Regions from separate parts of the Homo sapiens genome. Here region 1 is linked to region 2. The links come from fine-mapping of genetic effects on gene expression. Tissue or cell type: prefrontal cortex. Region 2 holds a variant in brackets; the other region holds the start of a gene. All regions are shown on one strand. Distances are between the middles of the regions.

The links.
Region 1: it holds the start of NUB1, and the variant in region 2 is fine-mapped to the expression of NUB1 in prefrontal cortex (ROSMAP, PIP 0.95).

What each region holds. Positions count from the first base shown.
Region 1 is chr7:151,337,165-151,346,908 of GRCh38, reverse strand. NUB1 (negative regulator of ubiquitin like proteins 1) reads right to left here and starts at 5,097. Exons shown (of 15, transcript NM_001243351.2): 1 at 5,063-5,097; 2 at 1,443-1,561. The coding sequence starts at 1,559. RefSeq lists silencers at 4,828-5,007, 5,178-5,377 and enhancers at 4,975-5,476, 6,546-6,635, 6,766-6,825.
Region 2 is chr7:151,357,222-151,369,293 of GRCh38, reverse strand. It overlaps NUB1 (negative regulator of ubiquitin like proteins 1), which reads right to left. Exons shown (of 15, transcript NM_001243351.2): 8 at 9,047-9,153; 9 at 2,169-2,355; 10 at 1,326-1,433; 11 at 407-559. It also overlaps a transcript of WDR86 not described here. Among named protein-coding and RNA genes, the nearest start is that of NUB1, 21 kb to the right of the region's middle. The variant T/G (reference allele first, on the strand shown) is at 4,841.

The sequences.
Region 1 (9,744 bases), 21 kb after region 2:
TCTGGTCCCCAGGTTACCCATACTTTTGTCTGACTTAGCTACAAAGTCGAGGGTTCACACAAGCACCCCCTTCAGGTTCCATGATTTGCTAGAACAACTCACAGAACTCCAGAAAATGGTATACTTATGAATATAGTTCATTACAAAGGATACAAATAACCATTCACATGAAGAGGTACTAAGGCAAGGTCTGGAAGGGTCCTGAGCATAGAAGCCTCTGTCCCATGGAGTTGGGGGTGTACATCCCGACATGTGGATGTGTTCACCAATTTGGAAGCTGTCCAAAATCTGTCACTTAGGGGTTTGTATGGAAGTTTCATTATGCAGGCCTGATTAAATCACTGACCATTAGTATTAGTCATCAGCTCAATCTCCCCTTCCCAGAGGTTGGAGGGGAGGGTGGAAAGTTTCAAGTGTCTAATCACGGCTTGGTACTTTTGGTGACCAGCCCCATCCTGAAGCTATCTAGGGGCAACCAAGCCTCATGAGCACAAAGGTTGCTCCTATCATGCTTACCACTTAGGAAATCCCAAGAGTTTTGGCTCTGCCAGGAACCAGGGACAAAGGTCAAATATTTTTCCTTTATGCCACACCTAGTTTCTAAACCAAGAGACTGTAACAATAAATTCAGAAGCAAGGTCAGAAGGTGGGTTGCAAAGAAAAAGTGAGGCCTGCCTGGAACAGAAGAAACAGAAGAACTAGGACCCTAATACAGTTTGTCACCTCCCAAGCACATCATTATGTCACAACACAGAGCAATTTAATGCCTCATGACAATCCTTAGTCCCTGATAAATGTTACATCATGTTCAGGATACTCTGAATGAGAGCAGAGAAGTACATGCTAGGAAATTCCAGTATGATAGATTTCTGGCAAAAATGAGTACTGTTTCTCTGCTTAGAAAAGCAAGCAGACTTCAGTTTCTAGAAACATCACTTACATACAATATCATTTCTGATGATGCCATGAAAAACTGAGATACAACTGTTAGAAAAAACCTATTTTGGAAAAATGAACACTGATAGTGAGAGCATCAAAAAAACTGGGGGAAAAAGGAGCAATTGTTTCACAGCAGATGATGATAGCAAGGAGGACCGAGAATGAGCCAAGACACTGTCACTTTGAACACACAATGCAATTACTTACTGGCACCAATACTGTTCCACTAATGGGTCAAAATGAGTTCCAGATAAATAATGTTATGTAATCCTGTGATGGTATTAAAAATATATGCCTGAAAAATTAGATAACATCCTCATGTGAATAAAATATTAATGAACAAAAATAAGGTTGTCAGTTCCTAGTAAAAAGTGGGTACCCGCTCACCACTAATGCTTTTGGTTATGCCAAAAGTTTATATGGTCATGCCTGACAATTCAGAATCTTATTTACCAAGGAGATTTATAATGCTGCTAATTATTGATGTCTTAAAAGAAAAATACCTTTAATGCCAAACCAACTTTTTTATTTTCATCTGTATATGGAGGTTTCCAAAGTTGAATCCTGTCTTCCCTTAAAAACTGGGTCAATTTTGCTTGAAGATATTTCTTTTGTGCCATCCCTGAAAGCAAAACAATACATTAATAAAACTCCACATCGCATTTTAAAATGTTAATAACTTACCTACATGTTAAGGTGCTTTGTTGGGTAAGCAAAGCTCCCTTCCTCTGTCATTAAATATAAATTACTATGGTTTAAATGAGCTCCAGACTTCTCTAAAAATATATATAGAAATATATGTTCAATTATATATATTACATATATAAAATATGTATTTCAAAGTTGCTAATATGTAGCAAGGATTATTACATGTTTCTATTTCTTAATCTGCTATTCTCTTATCTAAGAGAAAAGAGAAAATAAGAGAAAGATAAATCCCTCGAGTCGTGAACTTCTTTTTTTCTTTTTTGAGACGGAGTCTCGCTCTGTCGCCCAGGCTGGAGTGCAGTGGTGCGATCTCGGCTCACTGCAAGCTCCGCCCCCTGGGTTCAAGCAATTCCCCTGCATCAGCCTCCCTACTCACTGGGATTACAGGCATGCGCCACCACGCCCGGCTAATTTTCATATTTTTAGTAGAGACGGGGTTTCGCCATGTTGGCCAGGCTGGTCTCGAATTCCTGACCTCAAGTGATCCACCCACCTTGGTCTCAAAACGCTGGGATTACAGGCGTGAGCTTGTAAATTCTCTCATACTTTGGCTAGTTTAACATAAAACAAAAGGCCAACCATCCTGGTAGTTAAATATAAAGAAAAGCTTGCTTGAACTGTAAACTATCGATAATAAATATTTTCGGATGGGTGTGGTGGCTCAGGCCTGTAACCCCAGCACTTTGGGAGGCTGAGTTCAGGAGCTGAGGTCAGGAGTTCGAGACCAGCCTGGTCAACATGGTGAAGCCCTATCTCTACTAAAAAAAAAAAAATATATGAACAATTAGCCGGGCGTGGTGGCAGGTACCTGTAATCCCAGCTACTCGGGAGACTGAGGCAGGAGAATCGCTTGAATCCAGGAGGCAGAGGTTGTAGTGAGCCGAGATGGCACCACTGCACTCCAGCCTGGGCAACAGAGTGAGACTCCGTCTCAAAATAATAATAAATATATAAATATTTTCTATGTCAGAATTTTTTAAATTAAAAAGATTACAATACTAGGAAAATTTTGCATATTTTCTGATTAACAGCCTAACAGCACATCTACTTTTTTTTTTTTTTTTTTTTTTTTTTTTTTTTTGAGAGGGAGTCTCACTCTGTCGCCCAGGCTAGAGTGCAGTGGTACAATCTCGGCTCACTGCAAGCTCCGCCTCCCGGGTTCACGCCATTCTCCTGCCTCAGCCTCCCCAGTAGCTGGGACTACAGGCGCCCGCCACCACGCCCGGCTGATTTTTTGTATTTTTAGTAGAGATGGGGTTTCACCGTGTTGGCCAGGATGGTCTCAATCTCCTGACCTTGTGATCCGCCCGCCTCGGCCTCCCAAAGTGCTGGGATTACAGGCCTGAGCCACCGCGCCTGGCCCTACTATTCAAATCTAACACTGATCGGATCATTTTACAGCTGAGAAAATTAGGGCCCTGAGTTTGTACCATGACTCAGGCAAAGACACAAAATTAGGCAGCATCTTAACGAGCACAACTTCCACCCACAACACTGGACTCTGAACTTCCGTCATGGAGTCCCTTGCTGCTTGCCTGTTCCAGGTATGTAACTTCTCTCTCCCAGAGAAGTATGTACCGCGATGGAGCTGTCTACTCATCCCATACTAGCACAGCAATTCAAAGGTGAGTGAGGCGGCTGAGATGTAAGGCAGCTGGCAGGTGTAGCACAGCGCTTTAAGGTTTCCCAAATCAGACAAGCAATAAGTAAAGAAAAATGTTATTAGCCCCTGAATGATGAAGACAAGTTCTAGAGAGTGGAAAAAATATGAGTTAATATTACCAAGATAAATTTCTTTCTTCTATTGAGGGCCAGTATTCCACATCCCCCCAAACCCAATTCACACAACTTTGAAATCTTTGAAAACTTTGGTAGCTTGTGTATTTCATAAACAAATATTTTTTAAAAGAAAGTTCAAATCTATTTTATGTCAGTGCGGGGACAAGAATTAGGCTAATCAGGACAGGGAGGAGAAAAGAGAGGAAGGAATAACACAGCCAATGAGGCTGCTGTGTGCAACCTGGGTGGCCCATGGGAGAATCCTCCATTTTTCAAGCACTGACAAACGGCTTATCACAGCAAAGCATATTAGTACTTAGAGCGTTAGCTTTTCAAACACAAATAACTTTAAAAACTACTTTACATACTACTCATGAATCTTCAGAAATTCTGAATAAAATATCACAGCAACCCTACTGTCTCCCCACTGGGGGACAGTAATTTCACAGGCTGGTTACTGGAGCCAAGCAATTTGAAAGGCTGATGCGGTACTCAGAGATGCCATCCAAGGCCGGGCGCGGTGGCTCACACCTGTAATCCCAGCACTTGGGAGGCCGAGGCCAGTGGATCACCTGAGGTCAGGAGTTCAAGACCAGCCTGGTCAACATGGTGAAACCCCGTCTCTACTAAAAAAATAAACAAATAAAAAATTTTTAAAAAGATGCCATCCAAGCCACCACTTGACAGAAGGACGAAGGAGTGTTACAAACCCAGTGCGTGTCAGACACTCCAGGGAGCAAACAAGAGCTCCAGGGTTACACCGAATAAGATTTAATGTTAAAAAAAAATTAAACCACTGTCTTGAAACTTAAGGAACTTCAGTTATAGACAACAGAGTAAGTGGCGACATATTTTAAGTCAAGTTTAATAAGTCAGTTTTTAATTTTAACTGAAATGAGAACTGAAAAAGTTTCATGCATGCCATACAATGTTTCACATTGTAACTAAGAAAAGACGAAACTCATTAATATCACTCCGTGGTCCAAGCAGAAAGTGAAACGTTATAACGATCCTTTAAAAATTTCACTTTCACTTTTGTAATGAATCGATCATTGCTACATTTAGCCACACCTTTTCAAGTATACATTATATATAGTTGAAACACAACTATATCTAGTCAAGACACATTCATTTTTTCTTAGGAAAATGAAAGATTCTTGATTAAAAATAAAAGGGAAGGAGGTGAGAATGATAGAATCAGGTCGTCAAGGTTCGAGAAAATCAAGTGTCTTGTCATTAAATAGCAAAGAAAATCTGGCTTTGATTGCAAATAAATCCCAAATGGTATACTCGGAGTGTTACGATTCAAGTATAGCATTTGGCTAATTTTTTATAGACATATTTATTCCTTTCTCTCCCCAAACCGATACACTCAATATTTTCTTTTAAATACCCCACACCTCTGCCTAACTCAGGGCAAACCAAAGGGCCCCGAACGGCCAGCGCGTCCCGAAGCCCGGCCCACCGCTCCCGGCCCCGGCCCCGGCCCCGGCCCAGCTCCACGCATGGCTGCTCACCCCCGCCCCGCGGCCGCTCCACCCCTGGCCAGGAGAGGTGCCCAGTCGGACCGGGAACCGGGGCGCCAAGCAGTGCTGCTGAGGCTGGGGTCGAGGACACTCGGCCGCCGTGTCCTCACCTGCGCCACGCCACTCCCGCCGCGACCAGCAGAGTGCCCGGATGCGGCAGCGGCCGCCGTTTGTTTTCATTCCGGGTGAGGCCAGCCCCGCCCCCGCCGCCGCTGTCGCCTTCGCGCCGCCGCCGCCGCCGCCGCTTGGAAAGAGGGTTGTGGGCGGGGCCAAGGCGAAGCCAGCTGTGGGCGGGGATACGGTTGTGTGGGCGTGGTTACCGCGGGGCGGAGCCGCGACGGGGCGGAGCTAAGCGGAGGCGGGGCTGGGCGAGGATGTGGCCGTGTGGGGCGAGGACCTGGGAGTTGGTGTCCAACGCCACCCCAGGCTCAGTCTTCCAGGACTTCCCGCCCGGGCTCAGTTTGCCAGCCATCAAGAGGAAATGGATCCTGGCTTTGTTTCTCCAGAATCCTTGAAAGAGGCTGGGGGAAGGGTCGGGACCGTCCCAACCCGCATCTCATTCCTCAGCCTAGGCTGGACCCCTTCCCTAAACCAGCGGCTTTTCACCCCGCCCTCCACAAGCCCACCAGGGGCTTCCCTGGGGTGAAATTAGGCTGCTTCCCGGGAATTTCCTCCCCCATGCTGTCCACGGCCACTAGGGACCACAAGGCCTAGGGAGCTCTGCCTACTTCCAAGGTCCTATTCCCAAGGCTGTGCTCAACAGTGACGCTTCTATTTTATTATCAGTTATTGCTGTTAATCTCTTACTGTGCCTAATAAATTAAACTTTATCGTAGGTATGTACGTATGTATAGGAAAAATGAAGTGTGTGTATATATATAGTATATATATATGTGTGTGTATGTAAAATGGGGTGCAGTACTATCCGAGGTTTCAGGCATCCACTGTGGGTCTTGGGACACACCACCTGTGTGTGGACGAGAGGGGACTCCTGTAACCTTGCAGTGACCAATCCGTTTTTCGTTCCCTGTTGCTGCTTTCTTTAGCCCTTTTCTACCTATAAAGCCCACCTCCTCTGCCCAGCTCGTTGGAGCACCGTTTCTAAATTTTCAGAGAAGATGCCATCCTGATTCATGAATCAATAAAAACCAATAGATCTTTAATCTAAATTTGTGGTAATTTTGACTTCTGACAAAGGGATATTAATAACTGTATAACCGCACCAGACCAATCTGATTCGCCTTTTATATACCCAAGTTGTGAGTTGTTTTTCAGTTGCATGGACTCCCAGATGGAAGGTTTCGCACGTAACCTGAGGATGCCCAGGTGAACCAAGCATGCAACCAGGGGCGGAACCTGAGTGCTCAGATCAAAGCAGGGACTGAATTAAGAAATGGGCACTGCATGGTGAGATCCAGAATGCAATCAGATCAAGCCCTGGTGTCACCCCATGGCAGGGTCCAGTCAGATGAGCATCCCAGCATCACCTCATCGCAAAATCTAATCCGATCATGCGTCATTACCCTATGCTTATAAAACCCAACCCAGCCCCAAGCTCAAGGAGACAGAGCTGAGGGTTTCCTCATGTCTCCTTGACAGTCAACTCACAATAAAGCCTTTCTTTTCTCAAAAGCCCGTGCCATGGTGTTGGCTTCTAGCACATCAGGAAAAAGCCCGTTGATTGCTCAGTAGCAATTGCAGCAAGGTAGAAGGACAACAGAAACTGTTCTGACATTTTTTTCTGAGGGCTTTCTCTGAGATGAGTAACAAAGATAGTTTCACTTTTACATTTACGTAGTAGACCATCAGGAAATTGAATGTCCACGCTCAGGTGTGATGGAGCAGCTTGCAGTAGACCAAGGCTCCCACTAACAACAACTAGAAAAGCCAGAAAGCGAAGTCAGAAAACATCTGTTTGAAGGCAGTGAAAGCTGCTGAGGCAAGAATGGGGGGACTTGATATTCCAGAGAATGAGGAACCTTCAAGGGGTGAGCTAATGTCTGCAGTGGCTTGTATTGGTGTGTGAGGGCTTTTGCCAGTTCTGGATACAAGCATGAGGCTGAGAATTTAGACTTTGAGACCACAGAGGGCCACTGCTGGGGACACAAAACCAACACAGCGATGTAGGGGGAAATTCCAAGGACAATTGCTGAATTCAAGGCTTGTATGGGGCAAGAAACTGAAATGTAAATGGAAGGCCTCTGAAAGCAGAAGTTTTTGATAGACTTGCAAAACAAAGATTCGAGTCTGAGATCTGCTAGGGTGGTGGTGGAAGTGGGTTACTGCAGAGCCTACACCATGTTCCCAGTTGGAAACTGGAGGGCAACGGTAGCTTGAACCCTACCAGAACCTCAGCCCAGCCTTCACTCCATGCAGTCCCTGATTGGATTAAGGTTATTGGCCACTCCTGTCTTTGGTTTTGTGGAGGAAAGGGAAAAACCCTCCTGAGAGAATGATAACATTTGAAGCCTCTACAACTTTTTAGAAGCTATATTTGGCATCTCATTAAAAAGTTACTAGATAAAAAAAGAAAAAGACAATAGAAACAGACCCACAGATGAGTCAGATATTGGAGTTGCCTGATTAAAATAACTCTGATGAACATTTTCAAGAAAACAGAAAAAAAGATGAAAATTTTCACCTGAGTATTGAAATCTATAAAAATAAATCAAATGAAAACTCTAGAGGTGAAAAGTGTAATAAATGAGGCTGTGAACTCTGGATGTTAGACAAAACTAAAGACACGATTAGTGAACTGCAGGCACATCAATAGAAAATATCCAAACTGAAGCATAGAAGGAAAGAATGGAAAATACAGAAACAAGCATTAGAGACACATGGGACATGATGAAAAGTTCTACCAGGTATTCAGGTTTCTAGAAAAAGAGAGAAAGGGGCAGAAACAATATTTGAAAAGATAATAACCAAGAGTCCAAGTTTCGCAAAACTGATGAAAGACATCAAATTACAAATTCTGTAAGTTCTATGACTCCTAAGCAGGATAAATACAAAATCAGCCACACCCAGTGCATTCTAGTAGAACCATTGAAAACCAAGGAAAAAGATAAAATCTTAAAAGGTGCCAGGGCCAGGTACGGTGGCTCACGCTAGTAATCCCAGCACTTTGGGAGGCTGAGGCAGGTGGATCACCTGAGGTCAGGAGTTCGAGATGAGTTTGACGAATACGATGAAACCCCGTCTCTACTAAAAATACAAAACTTAGCTGGCTGTGGTGGAGGGCGCCTGTCATCCCAGCTACTTGGAAGGCCGAGGCAGGAGAATCGCTGGAACCTGGGAGATGCAGGTTGCAGTGAGCAAAGATTGCACCATTGCACTCCAGCCTGGGCAACAGATTGAGACTCCATCTCAAAAAAAAAAAAATTAATTTAATTTAATTAAACAAAAAAAAGGTGCCGGGGAAAAGATGCATTGCCTTTTAAGATTGTCAGCTGACTTCAGAAACAATAAATCCAGAAGACAATGGAATGGCATCTTTAATGTGCTAAAAGAAAATACACATGTTTAGTTCAACGTTCCTTAATATTTTAGGCAATAAGATTTATTGAGAACACAGAAATGGTGCAGACTTGTGCTTTTATCTTTGTCATGCATATGTGATGTCTTCTGGAATTAAGTTTAAAAAAGCAAAAGAAGTAAGTTATTCTGGCCTCCCATGGAGGTTTCTCAGATGGTAAGCCTACAGTGATGAGTAGCCACCTTCTTACTTCCAAGGTCACCTTAGTTTTTATTCACCCTTAAACTTAAAGTCACATGACTAATATTGTATATCGAATTCTTTTTAACATTAAAAGGGGTTAAAAAACAAACACGGATAAAACACAAACAGATGATCCTGAACTTAATTCAGTAGTACTAATACCACGGATTTATTTATTTATCATCTCTCTCCTTATTTTTTTATCTTGTTAGAGTAAGTGTATCACCTACCCAACTTTTTTTTTTTTTTTTGAGGCGGAGTCTTGCTCTGTCACCCAGGCTGGAGTGCAGTGGCACAATCTCAGCTCACTGCAAGCTCCGCCTTCCGGGTTCACGCCAATCTCCTGCCTCAGCCTCCCAAGTTGCTGGTACTACAGGCACCCACCACCATGCCCGGCTAATTTTTTGTATTTTTAGTAGAGGCGGGGTTTCACCATGTTAGCCAGGATGGTCTCGATCTCCTGACCTCGTCATCTGCCCGCCTTGGCCTCCCAAAGTGCTGGGATTACAGGTGTGAGCCACCGCGCCCAGCTGCACCTACCCAACTATTGAGACAAATGAACCTGGGTTAAAAAATTTGGACCAGAATATGTCAGAGATTCAAAACCAGAACACAAAATTTGAGGACTGATTACATGCTTCCAGAATGATTCTACCTGAATCACAGGTGAGAAGGCCAAGCCCTTTCTCACAGTGACTATGGCAACAGGAATTCATGACCTCCACTGAAATAAGGCATCCTAGCCCATGTTTCCTAGGAATCAGAGTAATCCTCCTATGCAATGACCTTGTAACTTCTTTTAGCTTCTATCATCTGTTTGGGTGATTGAAATTCTGGATTCCCAATCAGATGTGAACAACTTTTCCTCACCACTAACTTGATTTCTCTTTCTTCCATGTTCTTCATATCCAACTAAGATGCTGAATAAAATTACTATGTCTCCAAACAGCATGTTAAAAAATTATTTATGGGCTAGGAGCGGTGGCTCACGCCTGTAATCCCAGCACTTTGGGAGGCCAAGGTGGGCAGATCACGAGGTCAAGAGATTGAGACCATCCTGGCTAACATGGTGAA
Region 2 (12,072 bases):
GCTCACACCTGTAATCCCAGGACTTTGGGAAACTGAGGTGGGCGCATCACTTGAGGTCAGGAGTTTGAGAACAGCCTGGCCAACATGGTGAAACCCCATCTTTACTAAAAATACAAAAATTAGCCAGGTGTGGTGGCACACACCTGTAATCCCAGCTACTCAGGAGGCTGAGGCACGAGAATTGCTTGAACCCGGGAGGCGGAGCTTGCAGTGAGCCAAGATCGTGCCACTGCACTCCAGCCTGGATGACAAAGTGAGACTCTGTCTCAAGAAAAAAAAAAGGACAAGTTTCTCCTTCCTTCCCAATCTGGAGTAATAAAGAGTTCCTGGTTATTAACACTCCTGTGGGATTATCTTTTTTTGTTCTTTCATACCCAAGAGAGCTAGGGCATGTGAAAGTGGGTACCTCTCTGCGGTTGGTAATATGAGTGGCCGCATGATCCACGTTCCCATCACACGCCCTCAGGCCAAGCCGGGCTTCCTGGGCAGTAAACCCCAACTGCAACAAATTGTCCACTTTTGATGGATCAATATATAGCTCTTTAAAGAGCTGACGTGCCTAGAGACAGGGAAATGTAAGAATCATGTAACCACGGCAATACTTAAAGCTTAATACAAAGTGAAAGCCTAAAAGAAATTAGATTGTATCCAATGTGAATTAAAAGGCATCAGATTTTGGATAAAATCTCTAAACTAGGCCTGTTATTAACAAGTACAAATGGAAACAGACCAACACTACCTCTACTCACATAACTTAGCCACAGCACAACACGAGGTAAGAGGCTGGGTGTTGCAGAAGTGACTGGTAACCACTTTGTTTTTGCAACAAAAGCCCCCGAATTTCAGCTGTGCACGTGGCATTTCTCACCCTCCCTTGCAGCTGGGTGTAGCCAGGTAGTGAAGTCGAAGTCAATGGCATGCAGCCACAGCGCTGGGTGCAGCTGCGGGGTCATCTCTCCAGTGGCCTGCTCTGGACTCTCTCTTGCCCCCTCTGCTGGCTGGAAGAGGCACTGACAGGAGCAACCTAGGACGCCTCGCTGAGGCTGGCGGGCTGCTCACTGCTCCGGCCTGGCTCACCTCTAGACGGCAAGATGAGTGAGCCATAAACTTCTATCCAATTAAAGTCACTGTCTTTTTGAAGTCTCATTACAGCATCTGGCTGTACTCTAACATATACAAATATGTTTCTGGTTCAACATCTCCTGTGCACGGAGAAAGCACAGGCATGTTTCTCACAAGTCACAAACTACTAAGTTAAAATCCTTAACTTCTGGGAATGTTTTTTAAAAGGAGGTGAAAATTGGTTACAACTTTACTTTTCTTACCTTGTTAAGATACTCATAAGCCTCTACATCATTTCCACTGTGATAGTTTCGGATCCCTTGAAGTAAGTAGAGTCTTAGAAACAGTACCTTCTCTTTCCCACAATTTCCCTAAAATTATTGAAGAAAAAAAGGATAAAATTGCCTTATTTCTAATTACAGGTCTATAATACTCATCTCTGTCATTCCCTTGGTCTCCAGAGGGGCAACATGATAGGTATTAAAATGTCCATGGCTTCACTATGACTGACGGCAAAAGTGAAGCCCCCTCTTCCCCATCCCCTGTGGTATGATAACATTCCTCATGCCACACAGGAGAGTCAGTGTCAGGGCACCAGCCTCCAGACATGCAGCACAGTGGCCCTTCTGGTCAGCAGAGAAGTATGCAGAAATCCAAACCAGGTATCAGAGAGTCTGCATCAGCAGGATTTTGATGACTTGGGGAAATCAGAAAAATCCTTACTCGAGCCACAGCTCTTGAGCTGTGACTCATTCACGTAAACCATTACTGCTGAAATGTCTATTTTCTGCATTTACATCTTGCAAATTAGACTCTACCGATATAAAGAAGTCAGCAGCTCTCTCCTGGTCAGGGTGATCACTGATGGGGTTCTATGACTAGCAAACCATGTTCCTTTGGGCTAAATGCTCACACGCTAAGTAAGAGAGACAGCCAGATTTGTAAAACATTGAACACTTTATAAATATATAGTTTAAAAAGACTATACTGCATACTACTATCAAAATGAAATTACCTTCTGGCAGTAGTTCAAATACTTTAACAGGAATAAACACAAATGCTAGAAATGGACTCAACGAGACATAAGATGAATTCCAGGAACATACTTTTATGTGGACCAGTCTCTGATGATTTTCTCCGTAACAATTTTTAAAGCATTTCTGGGCCAAGTTTAATTTTTTTTCTGCATCATCAAGGCATTCCAGCTGTTCCAGGCGGAAGTAACACCACACTATATCCAGCTGGAGGACGGCGTAGTTATCCACTGTGTCCAGCAGCTCTCTGCAACACTCACTGGAAAGAGAAGGACAGTGACATCACTGCCAAGCAGCATTTGAAACATTTTTAGCATTTGAAACCTTTTTGTGAATGACTGGAATTCTTTCCCCGTTCTTGGTATATATTCAAAGGCTGACTGCTCTAAAAGAGAGATCCTAATGTTTAGGAAGGGAGCTGTGTTTATAATCTCATCCTTCTAATGGGGGAAAGAAAGAGAAATCAGAAATCAGGGCTTAGGAATCAAAGCTTACCACCACTTGCCCCAGGACACACATGCAGCCCCTTGATAGGAAGCAGAACCCAGGGCCACTGTTTCAGAGGCCCTCAGCAAATACGGGGAAGACCATGCTTTAAAGCTGTGACTTCCAATCCTGACTGCAAATCAGCATCACCTGGGCCAGAGCAACGTTCTTTCTTTCTTTCTTTCTTTCTTTAAGAATCATTGATCCCACCCAGACCAAACATAACAGAAATTTCTGGGGGTTGGGCCTGGTGGTTATACTGCCAGAGTCTCCCCAGCTGATTCTAGTGTACAGCCAGGGCTGAACACCACTTCTTTAAAGACACCAAAAAAATCCCTACGTACTATGAATGCCTCAGCTGATGACGGCTCTGACAAGGCATTCATGTTCAATCATATTCAAGCTGGGGGAAAAACAATCCAGAAAGCACCAGGCTCTAACGGCCCAGCTGATTTCTGAGGGCCTGTGTGCAGGCAAAATTTGACTCCGTATTCGTGGCAGCAGGCTGAACCCAGGCGCAGCAAAGGGAAGAAAGACAGCAACAGAAGTCAGTGTGCTCCAGGAGGAGCACTGACAAAGACAGCCATCAAGGTGACTAATTTTAAGTTATGATTACATTAAAAATTCCTAATGCCAATCTAGGTCTCAAGTCTTCAATAAGAACATTTGGAACCACACATTGTATATGAACAAGGTTTTCTCTCTTTATGTTCATTGGTGTTCTACTAAAAATAAGAATGCTCTTGTATAAAACTACAAAATCCACATGGCCTCAAGCTTCCTGTCCTGCCTATCAAAATATGCATGGAATAAAAAAAAAAGGACTTTAATTTTGTCATTTACTCTTTAAAACAGTAGTCTCCTAAAGAGGGCCCATGTACACAGTCCAGTTGTGGGTGCGGCAAGAAAAATGTATCACAGCAGTATTTTTATATTTATTTTCATCTCTCTCAACATTTCTAATTTCGTGAATGTTTGAGAACACATACACCATGTTTTACACACGTGTGCACGCAGACACACAGATGTGGAGCTGGGTGAGGGGTGCTTTCTCCAAATCTACGGCTCAGCCTGAGAACCTGCCTTTGAGAGAAACAGCAGCGCTTTGTGGATTGTGGTCTGATCTCACAGTCGTGTTGAGATTTCCTGCCTCTAGGCACATTCTGGTCCCAGTGACAGAAGACTCTCCTGCCACTCGCAGGAAAGCAATGGGCATGTGGCCGAACTTCTCCATCTCCTGCATGTTGCTTTAACAGGCTCGTTCATGTTTTACTAAGCATCAAGAGCGTGGGCAGAAATGGCCTCATGTCAGTTAAAAATAAAATCAATATGCACTTATCTCAAGTTTGACCCAGGAGTGAGTATTTATTTGTGCAGCCAAAAAAAAAAAAAAGAGAGAGAAGAAAACCAACAAAATGAACAAACACACAAAAAACCCAAAGCAGAGGTCTCATATTAGAGGGGTACATGTCATCCTTTTAGTTTTGAGAAATCAACACTTATTATTATATATAAAACTATATTTAAACCTGATCATTTGCTTGGGGCAAAGTGGTTTCTTAAAGCCTGGTATAAATTGCATTTAGAAGGCTGGGTGTGGTGGCTCACACCTGTAATCTCAGCACTTTGGGAGGCCGAGGCAGGAAAATCACTTGAACCCAAGAGTTTGAGACCAGCCTGAACAACATAGAGACTCTGTCTCTAAAGAAAAAAAAAAAATTATAAAAATAAAAAATTTCATTTAGAGTGTACTTTTATTAACATTGCTTTGGTTTACAATTTTAGTAGCATTAATATTCAACACTGTTACATTTTCATGCTGACGATATTAAAATAAACGTAAAATATTTATTTAAATAAAATCTACTGAGCCTAGCTTTCAAAAAATTAAATCCTGGCCAGGCACAGTGGCTCACGCTTGTAATCCCAGCACTTTGGGAGGCCGAGGCGGGCAGATCACCTGAGGTCAGAGGGTCAAGACCAGCCTGGCCAACATGGTGAAACCCCATTTCTACAAAAATTAGCGGGGCATGATGGCGGGTGCCTGTAATCCCAGCTACTCGGGAGGCTGAGGTGGGAGAATTGCTTGAACCCAGGAGGCGGAGGTTGCAGTGAGCCGAGATCGTGCCATTGCACTCCAGCGTGGGCGACAGAGCGAGACTCCGTCTCAAAAACAACAACAACAAAAATTAAATCCCATTTGAGCTTAAGTCGGTTATTTAACAGAAATTTATTATGTTTGTCTTACAGTTTTTTTG[T/G]TTTTTTTTTTGTTTTTTTTTGTTTTTGTTTTTGAGACGGAGTCTCGCTCTCTCCTCCAGGCTGGAGTGCAGTGGTGCAATCTCGGCTCACTGCAAGCTTCGCCTCCCGGGTTCCTGCCATTCTCCTGCCTCAGCCTCTCAAGTAGCTGGGACTACAGGCGCCTGCCACCATGCCCGGCTAATTTTTTGTATTTTTAGTAGAGACGGGGTTTCGCCCTGTTAGCCAGGATGGTCTGATCTCCTGACCTCGTGATCTGCCTGCCTCGGCCTCCCATAGTGTTGGGATTACAGGCGTGAGCCACCGCGCCCGGCCAGGCTTACCTTTCTTGAAATTAATATTTATTTAACATAAAAATTTTAGGCCAGGCGCGGTGGCTCACACCTGTAATCCCAGCACTTTGGGAGGCTGAGGCGGACGGATCACCTGACGTCAGGAGTTCAAGACCATCCTGGCCAACATAGTGAAACCCCGTCTCTACTAAAAATACAAAAACTAGTCGGGAGTGGTAGTGGGCACCTGTAATCCCAGCTACTTGAGAGGCTGAGGCAGGAGAATCGCTTGAACCCAGGAGGCAGAGGTTACAGTGGGCGGAGATTGCAGTAAACTAAGATTGCGTCACTGCACTACAGCCTGGGCGACAGAGTGAGACTCCGTCTGAAAAAATAAAATAAAAAAATAAGCCAAACTTACCTAACTTTTTTCAAGAAAGGTTAGCTAAAAAGTCATTTTCAATTTTATTACTGGTTTTAGGGAATTGGATTATAGTGTGCTGTAGTGTAGTTTTTTTCTGATATTTCTTGTACTTGGGGTCATTAAAGTCATTGCATCTGGGGGTTTATAGTTTTCATCAAACTGGGAAAAATTAATGGCCATTTTTTTCTTCAAGTATTGTTTCTGTCCCACATGTCTGCCTTTCCAGGGACTCCAATTACATGCATTTTAGGCCGCCTGAAATTGTGCCACAGCTTGCAGATGCTCTGTTCATTTTTTTTTTTTTTTAGCCTTTTCTCTGTTTTTTCAGATAGTTTCTATTGCCTTATGTAACATTTAACTAATCTTCTCTTCTATAGTGTCTATTCTGCAGTTCATCCCACCTAATGTACTTTTCATCTTGGATGTTGTACTTTTCATCTCTTACATTCTAATGTGGGTCTTTTGAATGTCTCCCATGTCTTTATCTGACATGTTCAGTTGTTCCTCTGCCTTCTTCAGCAGATGGATTACAGTCACTGTTTTAATGTCCTTGTCTACTAATTCTATCTTCTGTGTCACTTCTGGATCTGTTGCTACTGACTGATTTTTTTGCTTGTTATAGGTTACATTTGCTTGTTTCTTTGCATGCCTGCTAATTTTTCAGTGGATGCTGGATATTTTTGAATTGCTAAATTATTGAGTTTTGTTAGGGATGCACTTATTTGAAAACGGTAAGTTAAGGGTACTGTTCAGGAGTAGCTTTTAAGCTTTGTTAAGTGAAACCAAATTATGCCCTAGTGCTGAGGCAACACCCTTCTGAAGACTCTATTTGACGCCCTGTGACTACCAAATCCTCCACTCTGGCTGGTGGGAACATAAACTATTCCTGGCCTTCTATGAACTCGGAGGATTATTCCCTGCTTCTTTCATGTGGTACCTTGCCCAGCCCTGGGCGGTTTCCTCACACACATGTGCTGATCATTACTGAGCAGAAGACTCAAAAGGGCTCCTCTGAAGCTCTCTGACACCCTCTCTCTGGCAGCTTGCTCCTCTCACCTCCTTGGCCTCCTGCAAGCCCAGCTCCATCTCTTTAACTCCAGGGAGCACAAGGCTCTGCCTGGGTTTGCCCTCCCTGCCCCGTAACCTGAAACTTCTCCAGACACTGAGCTCCCCTCATGTTTCCCTACCTCAGGGTCACCGTTCTGCACTGCCAGGAAGTCACTGTTTCATACAATTTGGGGAAAGAAACTATTCTTGGTCATACTACATACCATACTCCAAGACATATGGTAGGAAGTTGTGACAAAACTTCTAGCTTACTTGGAGAAGTAAGGGGGAAAAGTCAAATGGAAAAGGAAATGGAAAAACTGAAGTTTCCTCCATCTGCATTCTATTTGGCTTACATTACTGCTGATTTCCTTTATGAAAAGAGAGAAATCACACACACACAAAAATATGCTAACAAGTTGGCCAGGATAAATAGATGCCCAGGATAAATAGATGCCCAGGAAAAAAAAAACTTTCTCTACTTAGAAAGACATTGTTAATTATTATTTCATTATTATACCTACCACTTACCGGACATGTTAATGTATCATGAACTGAAGATGTAGCCAAATTTGTATTCAATGGTTCCCTGAGACCTAAAAATTATTTCAAGGATTTGTCCAGGATAAAAAGATTGAGGGAGGCTCACACAGATGTATGAAGATCAACCATGTCTTTATAACTGCAGAAGCTTAGTTATGAGTGTATATGGAAGCTCATTATACTAATTTTTATTTTTATGACTATTTGAAATTTTCCATAATAAAAAATTAGAAACAACTATGGAAGGGAATGAAAAATTTACCTAAACTTTTAGGACCTAATTTAAAGCCTGTTTACCCTACACTGTTTGCAGAAGAGAATGAAACTGACATCCAGAAAGAGGCAGAGACAGAGACCCCAGAAGCACAAACCAGCCCTCATTCTCACTATTCCCAGCCCGGCCCCTCCCCTCCCAATTCCTTTTTTGTGTACGTTAAAGTTGGGACTTGTTCACTTAGAACCCAAAGGCACTGACCAATGGAAAACTATAAATATTTGCATTCATCTTCTGGGAGTATACAGTATTATCTTGGGAATGCACCAAAACAGAAAAGAAGTTAACACTAAATTTGTTAACTTTTGACCATTTTCAAAAAATCAAGTCTACTTTTCAAATGTTGAATATGTCTGCATCATAGTCTCTTAGTACCGTTTCCCATGAAGAGGAACCAGGACTCCTTGGGAAATTGCTGATTCCTGGTCTGGGCATTAAATGCCCAAGATGAGCCTGGAGTATCTTTGGATTCCAGAAATCAGAGACTGCAAAGACTAGCAGGGTCAGGTCAAAAAAACATGGGCTGCCTGCCAGCCAGCATGACCAATTTAAGCACTGAAGTTTGAAACACATCAAATGTTTTAAATCCATGAGTTAATAATGACACTTAAGAAAATGAAAAGAAAAAGAAACCTCTTTGGTCACCTTTGGAGGGTGATAGTGAAGCAACTCATTTATTCTGAAAACAAGAAAATAAGGAGAAAGAAACAAAGTATTTTATTCTAACTTTCCTATACAAATTGTACCTCCACATATAAAATAACTGATGAGCAAAAACAAATTTTTCAGAATTCCAGCAATAAATGCAGAAGGGAGGCTGGGTGCGGTGGCTCACACCTGTAATCCCAGCACTTTGGGAGGCCAAGGCAGGAGGATCACATGAGTCCAGGAGTTCAAGATCAGCCTGAGCAACACAGGGAGACCCCATCTGTATAATTAAAAAAAAAAAAAAAAAAAAAAAGCCGACACAGCGACTCACACCTGTAATACCAGCACTTTGAGAGGCTGTGGTGGGTGGATCACTTGAGCCCAGGAGTTTGAGACTAGTATGGGCAACATAGTGAAACCTCATCTCTACAACAAATACAAAAAAATTATCTGGGCATGGTGATGTGCACCTGTGGTGATGTGCACCTGTGATCCCAGCTACTTAGGAGGCTGAGGTGGGAGGATCACTTGAGCCCAGGAGATGGAAGTTGCAGTGAGCTGAGATCATGCCACTGCATTCCAGCCTGGGTGACAGAGTGAGACTCTGTCTCAAAAAAAATAAGTACAGAAGGAATAATATCACCATTATACAGCTCTTAAACAACGGATTTGAGGAATAATCATCAATACTACCCCAAAACCATTAGGTGAAAAGCTGACAGGAAACTTTATAATGGAAAGTTCCGACTAGCAACATAGCACATGTACAGAAGAAGAGAGGATATCCTACCTGCTTGAAAATTCTTTTCTTTACAGGGAGGAAAGGTCAATTAGAAATACAAAGGGAAGAAGAAATTCACCAGTTTACACCATAACTACTCTTTTACATTAACCACTGTTGTAGATGAAAGTCTGCAGTCTCAAGGGCATGGCAGGGTGTTCTGTATAGTCTGGGCCATCTTCCTTAAAGCTGGTGTTCACCAAGTACAAAAGCGCCTACCAGAAATATTTGTCAGCGTCCAACAGACATGGCAAGGCTATTCCATATTCTTTTCTTTTCAGGAAAGCTCTGCCCTTCTCATGATATCCCATAGCTAACATAAGGGCCTAGGAAAAAATACAAATTTAAAAAACATCACTTTAAAATATAATAAGGCAAATTATATTAAAAGCATATTACTTTTTAAAAAACAAAGTAAAAAAAATGAAAACAAGATCATAACTCAATCTAAAAGCCAAAATTAAGAAAAATATAATTAATTAAAGCTTTATTTCATTTAAATACTGAAGCCAAACACTTCATTTATTATAGCTGATACAATCCTAACCAGCACTTGGCCCTTTGCTTTCATTAGTTTATTTTCGTATCCACTGATCTGGATTCTACTTCTAATATTCTATTCAGACTAAACATATTAAAAAGCAGCCAGTAATGCTTGTATCATTTTTATTTTATTTATTTTATTTTTTTGAGACGGAGTCTCATTCTGTCGTCCAGGCTGGAGGGCAGTGGTGCGATCTCGGGTCACTGCAACCTCTGCCTCCTGGGTTCAAGCGATTCTCCTGCCTCAGCCTGCCGAGCAGCTAGGACTACAGGCATGAGCCACCATGCCCGGCTAATTTCGTATTTTTAGTAGAGATGGGGTTTCACCATGTTGGCCAGGCTGGTCTCAAACTCCCGACCTCAGGTGATGTGCCGCCTTGGCCTCCCAAAATGCTGGGATTACAGGCGTGAGCCACGGTGCCCGGCTGCTTGTATCTTTAAAAAGGGCATTCATTTCACTTTCTATTCTTTTTTTTTTTTTGAGACAGAGTCTCGCTCTGTCACCCAGGCTGGAGTGCAGTGGCGCGATCTCGACTCACTGCAAGCTCCACCTCCCAGGTTCACACCATTCTCCTGCCTCAGCCTCCCAAGTAGCTGGGACTACAGGTACCCACCACCACGCCTGGCTAATTTTTTTTTTTGTATTTTTAGTAGAGACAGGGTTTCACCGTGTTAGCCAGGATGGTCTCGATCTTCTGACCTCGTGATCTGCCCGCCTCGGCCTCCCAAAGTGCTGGGATTACAGGCATGAGCCACCGTGCCCGGCCTCACTTTCTATTCTTAATCATCTAGTTTTTTCAGAAGTTGTTTGTCAACTTTAGTATTTCCAAAACAAATTTTTTTATTTTATTTTTTTTTTGAGACAGAGTCTCGCTCTGTCTTCCAGGCTGGAGTGCAGTGGCGCGATCTCGGCTCACTGCAACCTCTGCCTCCCGAGTTCACGCCATTCTTCCACCTCAGCCTCCCGAGTACCTGGGACTACAGGCGCCCACCACCACGCCTGGCTAATTTTTTTGTATTTTTAGTAGAGATGGGGTTTCATTGTGTTAGCCAGGATGGTCTCGATCTCCTGATCTTGTGATCCACCCACCTCGGCCTCCCAAAGTGCTGGGATTACAGGCGTGAGCCACCGCGCCCGGCCCCAAAACAATTTTTAAAAGGTGATCCAAAATTTTTTGAAGTTCATTAGATTTTTCAATTTAAATGTTCGCATAATTCAGTCTGATAAAGCAGTAGTCCCAACCTTTTGGCACTAGGGACTGCTTTCATGGAAGACAATTTTTCCATGGACAAGGAGGAAGGCAGATGGTTTCAGGGTGAAAACATTCTACCTCAGGTCATCAGGCATTAGATTCTCATCAGGAGTGCACAGCCTAGATCCCTCACATGCCCAGTTCACAATAGGGTTCATGCTCCTAAGACTCTAATGCCGCCGCTGATCTGACAGGAGGTGGAGCTCAGGCGGTGACGCTCACTTGCCTGCTGCTCACCTGCTATGTGGCCCAGTTCCTAACAAGCCACGGACTGGTACCCATCTGCAGCCTGTGGGGTGGGAACCCCTGTGATAAAGGTTTTCCAAAAAGATCTGGATGTCGTCATTCAATGTAAGAGAGCAGTGGGCAAGTAATCATCATTTTCAAAAGACAAACATTGGCCGGGCACAGTGGCTCACACCTGTAATCCCAGCACTTTGGGAGGCCGAGGCAGGCGGATCACGAGGTCAAGAGATTGAGACCATCTGGCCAACATGGTGAAACCCCGTCTCTACTAAAAATACAAAAATTAGCTGGGCATGGTGGCGTGCACTGTAGTCCCAGCTACTCAGGAGGCTGAGGCAGGAGAATCGCTGGAACCCGGGAGGCGGAGGTTGCAGTGAGCCAAGATTGTGCCACTGCACTCTAGCCTGATGACAGAGCGAGACTCCGCCTCACACACACACAAAAAAAGACAAACATCAATCTACTGATAACTCAAACACTGATCCACAGTTCTGTTATGAAAACAACTTTAATCCGGCCGGGCGCAGTGGCTCATGCCTGTAATCCCAGCACTTTGGGAGGCCGAGGTGGGTGGATCACCTGAGGTCAGGAGTTCAAGAACAGTCTGGCCAACATGGCGAAACCCCGTCTCTACTAAAAATACAAAAATTAGCCAGGCATGGTGGGGCACACCTGTACTCCCAGCTACTTGGGAGGCTGAGGCAGGAGAATTGCTTGAACCAGGGAGGCGAAGGCTGCAGTGAGCTGAGATCGCACCACTGCACTCCAGCCTGGGCAACAGAGTAAGACTCCTTTTCAAGAAAAAAAAAAAAAAAACTTTAATCTTTAATTTTAAACAGAGTAACTCATAGAATGAAGCCTACTCAAAACCATCCCTTAAAAACAGAAAAATTAAAATTAATTTGACCCATAGTCATTCATTATAAGAAGCTACTGAACCCTTTCTCAGAGATTGATCTTAGAGTCCAAGTTCCAGAATGCTGCTATAGAGGCCCCCAAGGGGCTGGGTGCAGTGGCTCACACCTGTAATCCCAGAACTTCGGGAGGCCGAGGCGGGCGGATCATCTGAGGTCAGGAGTTCAAGACCAGCCTGGTCAACATAGCAAAACCCTGTCTCCACTAAAAATACAAAAGTTAGCCAGGCATGGTGGTGCGTGCCTATAATCCCAGCTACCCAGGAGGCTGAAGCAGGAGAATGGCAAC